2 separate regions of the Homo sapiens genome follow, and region 1 is linked to region 2. Evidence: fine-mapped expression QTL. A gene starts in region 2. The other region holds a variant in brackets. All regions are shown on one strand. Distances are from middle to middle. Region 1 overlaps SLC15A4 (solute carrier family 15 member 4). Region 2 holds the start of SLC15A4 (solute carrier family 15 member 4).

Region 1 (2,905 bases), 29 kb before region 2:
TTCTATAGTTTTTCTATACTTTCTATTACACAACGAACAACAACGTGAGGGTTTTTTGGTTTGTTTTTTGTCTTCTCCAAATGCTGAAACTACCCTTCCATGCAGAGGAGGCTGCAGAATCAGGAGACGCGCCGGAGCATCCGAGGGCTGTGCAGGAGCGCACTTCCCCACCCTCCCCTCAGTTCCCGACTCGGGAAGCTCTGCGCCTTCTACACGACAGGGGAGGAATCCACACGCCACACCAGCAGCGACTGAGGACAAACCACGCAAAGAACCGGCTCATGGATTTCGCATTTGAGATGCTTTTTATAATAAAGTTATGCCAAAAATACAGCAACAAATACAGAAAAAGTATTAACAAACGGAGAAGCCCCAGATACACGTACAGTAACAATACAAAAATGTGACTGGTCAAACAGCTCAAGTTCACATTTAACACTTTCAATTATTTTTAATTACACTATTTCTGTTCAAAAGAATGTTTTCCTTACATACAACCATGATCAGTCTTTAGTCTCAATCGTACCAAAATAAAGCTATATATAAGCACTCTGACTAGGTAAGGTGTGAAGTACCCCGTGAGTTGCTCTGTGGCTTGAGATGGGACACATGGTCTCAAATGACTCTTATGCATGCCTTGCCTTAAGAAAGAAAAGTAATGTTGATGGTTTAAAAAGTAAGTACTTTTTGAAGCAGCAGATGAAATGTGTTTACTACCAGCCTAAATCAAAGAACATGGCAAGAGCAAGATTGTTCTCAGGAAGGAAACCATAAATATGGCATTTATGTAAAATCCTTGCAGCATCTGACCATGCTTTTATCTTTAAAAAAAAAAAAATCCTCACTTTCTTAAATATAAGTAACAGTTTATTAATTTTTTTTTTACAGTGAGATATGGCTATGGGAAGCAGGTGATACTATTTGTTTAAGAAACTGGGATGCCAACTAACACGTGGAGTTCCCCAAGACTTTGCAATCTCCATTTGTGAGTTTCTGTAAAAAAGGGAACCCAGCTAGAGGATTCACAGAGACCTTGAATGACAAGCGACATACTCGAAATCTGCAGCTCTCCTCCCGGAGGGCCCAGCGTGCCAGGAGACACGCTGCAGTAAGGCACTTACCAAGCTCCTTTGGATAGAGGGAAAGAAGAAATCAATCCAGGCAACATGCAAGTTTCAGTGAAGTCAGACATTTTATGGGAATTTAAAGTCTTGCCTGTTCTCAGTGCACCCCAGTCAGTTACTGACATGTCAGCCTCAGAAACCGCACATGGCCTCAGGAAGGTCAGGCCCTCCTGCTGGTGGGCACGCCATTGGCTCTTGATCGCTGATGGTCTCGATGATGGTCATATTTCACAGAAATAATGAGGAAAAGCAGGAGGGTAGCTCCTTGAATAGCAGCCAGAAG[A/G]AAAAAGTAATAGTTCAAATAGCAGCCGTTAATATTACCTGGAGAAAACAAAAGGAAAGCGGCAGGTAAGCTGCGCTGCTACAGGTATTTTTTCAAGACTTTACTATTTAATCTGGTTCCCACTAAGGTTTAACTGGAGTCATAAAAAAAGTAACAAATGTTGTCTCTGTAGTCCAAAATGCACAAGCATCTTGCTTTCAAAACCACTGAAGAAGCTCCCTGAAGTCAGATACATCGCCACCGGGGGCTCTGGAGGTGGGCTGTCTGCAGCCCCCCACCTGCCCCTAGCAGCCCATCCCTCTCTTCTGTAAGGTAAAAGGAGGAGGTTCCCTGAGGAAACTAGAAAAGGTAGCTCCCCAGTACTCAGGAAAATCCCTGCGTGGCCTGCAGACACACATGCGGTGGTGAAGGGGACAGTGTCGACGGAGAGTGTGCCTAAGGCCGCACGACAAGGCTGCAAATCAGGAGCAAGGGGAAACCTGCCAACCCAGCCTCCTGTGACTGCTAATCCCCCCACACCAGAACAGCTGGGCAAAGTAAAAAATTACCTTCCTGTGTTCTTGCCACCAGAAACAAGTGTTAGCCGGTCTGGTGTTATTTCCTTCCTGCCTTTTCTGAGGCAGTGTTCCTCTCCTCAACTACTTCAGGGGAACTTCCTCCATTTATAGTTATGATTGGCCTGGAACTGCATTGTTGAGGAAGGCAGATGCGAAGATAACAAAAGAGCGCCTGACTATCTCTTTATCGAATCCTGAGGTGAGCGTCTTTGTAACTTGGCTATGGAACCTGTGCACTTTTTAGCATCACAGATTGCACTATGACACAGCCTGAACATCGTGAATTCTGGATTCACTGCATGGGTCACTGACACACCCAACACACCAGGGCCGACAGCTGGGCAATGTATCAAAGGAAGAGATGAGCTGGTTTCTGAATGTGTCTTAAACATGTTCAGGTTTTAGCATCCTCAAACTGACACAAGCAGATACCTCTGCATACTTTAATACAAAGAGTTAGCATACACTGAATACCCAACCGAGTCCCGGGCACTATGGAGGCACTTTACACGCAACGTCTGCATCCCAAGCAGGCTGGACAGCACAGAGGATAAGATCATGGGCCATGCAGCTCAAGCTATAAGGCTTGAATCCGGCCTCTGAGACCTCTGTGCTCAGTTTCCTCATCTGTAAAATGGGGAAAGCGCCGAGGAGCAGCATTTCAGAAAGGCACTCAAGAGGGAGTCTGGACGCGGTGAGGGTGCTAGCAACACGTGCCACGGTCATGATCCCCCTTTCACAGAGGTCTGGAACTGTCCACTCTGCAAACTGGCAGTCTCTCCGCCAGAGAACAGAGTTCAGCCAGCACCGGCTAACATCACCACTCAATGTGCAGACGTGGGAACGACGTGTGAGCAGAAAACGGCAGGACTTTTAGCTCGTCATGACTGGTCATCCAGGCCAAGCCGAGTGTCGCCCTGTGCTCTCCACCACGGCTGCTC
Region 2 (2,905 bases):
AGTGTTTTCCCACTTCTTTGTAAAGGAAGCTAAGGCAACAACGGGGGCTTCCCCTTCCCTCAGCTTCCTGGCCCAGGGCCCTGCACCTGCGAATCCCCATGTCTGGAAAGCTCCTCAAACAACTGCTCTTTCCTAGCCTTCTGGTCTGAACTTACAGGGCCTGAACATAGAAGGGTCCCGTTCATTTATTTTTTATTTATTTATTTATTTTTATTTGGAGACAGAGTCTCGCTCTGTCGCTCAGGCTGGAGGAGTGGAGTGGCGCGATCTCGGCTCATCGCACCTCTGCCTCCCGGGTGCAAGCGATTCTCCTGCCTCAGCCTCCCGACTAGCTGAGAGAACAGGTGCCCGCCACCACGCTCGGCTAATTTTTGTATTTTTAGCCAGGCTGGTCAGGCTGGTCTCGAACTCCTGACCTTAGGTGATCCACCCACCTCGGCCTCCCAAAGTGTTGGGATTACAGGCGTGAGCCACTGCGCTCAGCGTATTTTTTAAATTTTATTTATTTATTTTTTTGAGGTGGGGTCTCACTCTGTTACCCAAGCTAGAGTGCACTGGTGTGACCCTAGCTCACTGCAGCCTCCGAAACTCGTAGGCTCAAGGAATCCTCCTTTCTCTGCTAGGACTACAGGTGTGCGCCTCCACGGAGGGCAAATTTTTAAATTTTGGTAGAGATGAGGTCTCACTGTGTTGCCCAACCTGGTCTCAAAGTCCTGGGCTCAAGAGATCCTCCCGCCTCGGCCTCCCAAAGTGCTGGAATTACAGGCGTGAGCCACCGCGCCCGGCCTCTCTTTTCTTTAAAGCCACTGTGGCCATCACTGTGTGTGTAGACCTCACCCCGCCCCAGGCAAACCCCTTCCAGCACCCATCACACCGGTACCTCCAGTCTTGGCCCACCTGCTGGCGGGATTCCTCGGCACTAGACAGAAGCCCCCCGGGGCAAGGGGCTCCCTCCGCGGTCAGAGGCAGGGACTGGGGCAGGGGAAGAGGCTGGGGCTGGGCAGGGGCTGGACAGGGACAGGGACAGCGCGCGGGGGCGCGGCTCACCTGGTCGGCGCCGAAGGGCGTGATGTTGGCCTTGACGGTGGCCACGCCCAGGCCCACCAGCACCAGCCCCGCGAAGGTGGCCGGTGAGCAGCAGCGGGCGGCGGCGTCGGGACCAGGCGCCGTGCAGTTGAGCAGGCGCGCGGAACCGCAGAGCGCGGCTCGCGTGGCGGGCGCGGCCAGCAGCGGGAAGGCCAGCATGCCCAGCAGGTAGAGCGCCAGGCTCAGCAGGATGGCGCGCGCCCGGCCCAGCCGCGCGTCGGCCAGCCAGCCTCCGAACGGCGAGCCCAGGTAGGTGAGGCCCATGAAGAGCAGCAGCGCCTCGCTGGCCTGCGCGCCCTCCCAGCAGAACGGCGCCCCGTTCAGGAATAGCACCAGGTTGGACGTGATGCCGTAGAAAGCGGCGCGCTCCAGCAGCTCCGTCAGCAGCACGGCCCCGCACGCCGCGCGCCGGCCCGCGAACGCCCCAGCCGCCGCCGCGGCCGCCGCCGCCCGCCGCGCGCCCAGCAGCGGCGCCCGCTCGCCCGCACCGCCCCCAGAGCCCTCCATGCGACGCCGCCAGCTGCCTCGCCCCGCCGCCGGGTCACCTGTCCCAGAACCCAGGGCCGCCGCCCTTCTCGCGAGACTGCCGGGCCTGAGATGTCCCTATTGGGCGGGCTCGCCGCTGCTCAACGCCCCACTCGCCGGAACTTCCGGCCCCGCCCCGGGCACTAGGCGAGGAGGTGGCCGGTATTCTGGATCACTGCGTGTCTTGGGGAGCTTGGGATTCCGCAGCTTGGCGGCCGAGAGCCTTTGTTTGCCTTTTTGAGACAGGGTTTCCCTCTCTCGCCCAGGCTGGAGCGCAGTCATGCGGTTACGCCTCACTGCAGCCTCAGCTTCCCAGGATCAAGCGGCCCTCCCACCTCAGCCTCCCGGGTAGCTGGGACCGCAGGCGCTCGCCGCTGCCTGTGGCTAATTTTTAAACAGTTTTTTGAAATGGGGTCTCGCTTTGTTGCTCAGGTTGGTCTCGAACTCCTGGCATCAAGCGTTCCTCACGTCTCAGCCTCCCATAGTGTTGGAATTACGTGCATGAGCCACTGCAGGCAGTCGGACTAAGGGAGTTTAAACAAAGAAGCCGGAGCCTGGCCCTCTTCGGGCTTCGGTGGGGCCCAGTAGGCAGCCAAAACTCACACTGAGACGGCGGCTGCTCTCCAGGCGGGTTTGCTCAGGCTGCCCCCGTGCTCCCTGCCCTGGGCTTCAGTCCTGGAGAGGACCCGGTTTCTCAACCCGTGCATCGTTGGCACTTTGAGCGACGGGACTGTCCTGTGCGTTGCACGATGTTCAGCAGCAGCTTTGGCCTCTGCTATCCACTAGGGGCCAGTTCCACCCCCTAGCACCTCAGGTTAACAACCGAAAATGTCTTCTAGACTTTGCCGAAGGACTCCTGGGGGCAAATACGCCCCCATTGAGACTCACTGGCTTAGAACAAGGCAAGCTCCAGCCTGTTTCAGGCTTTCCCAGAGACTGCCCCTACACCATCTATGGTTGCATGGCTGGCTTCTCATCCTTCAACCTTCCACCGAAGTGTTGACTTCAGAGAAACATTTTTTTCACTAGCCTGTCCAAGGCCCGAGTATCCCATTCCATCATGTTACTCTTTTCTCCTTATTACCTGTTACATTTTTTAATTTATTCGTTTATCTCCCCAACCTGCATGTGTTAACAGGTGTAAGCTTCCTGATGGCAGGATTCTCTTGTGTTTTGTTCCTCACTGTGCCCCCTGCCTCTGGGACAGCGCCTGGCACATAGTGGAGTGAAAGAGTGCCGCCCAAAAATGGCCCTCAGCATGGCTTCAGAAATTGAGACCCCGGCCTGGGATGGT

What was found.
Region 1: its variant is fine-mapped to the expression of SLC15A4 in monocytes after LPS (Quach 2016, PIP 0.95).

The regions. Positions count from the first base shown.
Region 1 is chr12:128,792,912-128,795,816 of GRCh38, forward strand. It overlaps SLC15A4 (solute carrier family 15 member 4), which reads right to left. Exons shown (of 8, transcript NM_145648.4): 8 at 283-1,445. The coding sequence ends at 1,285. Among named protein-coding and RNA genes, the nearest start is that of SLC15A4, 30 kb to the right of the region's middle. RefSeq lists an enhancer at 2,233-2,372. The variant A/G (reference allele first, on the strand shown) is at 1,408.
Region 2 is chr12:128,822,351-128,825,255 of GRCh38, forward strand. SLC15A4 (solute carrier family 15 member 4) reads right to left here and starts at 1,608. Exons shown (of 8, transcript NM_145648.4): 1 at 1,048-1,608. The coding sequence starts at 1,593. LOC124903083 (a long non-coding RNA gene) reads left to right here and starts at 1,594. Exons shown (of 2, transcript XR_007063602.1): 1 at 1,594-2,905. RefSeq lists an enhancer at 1,359-1,518.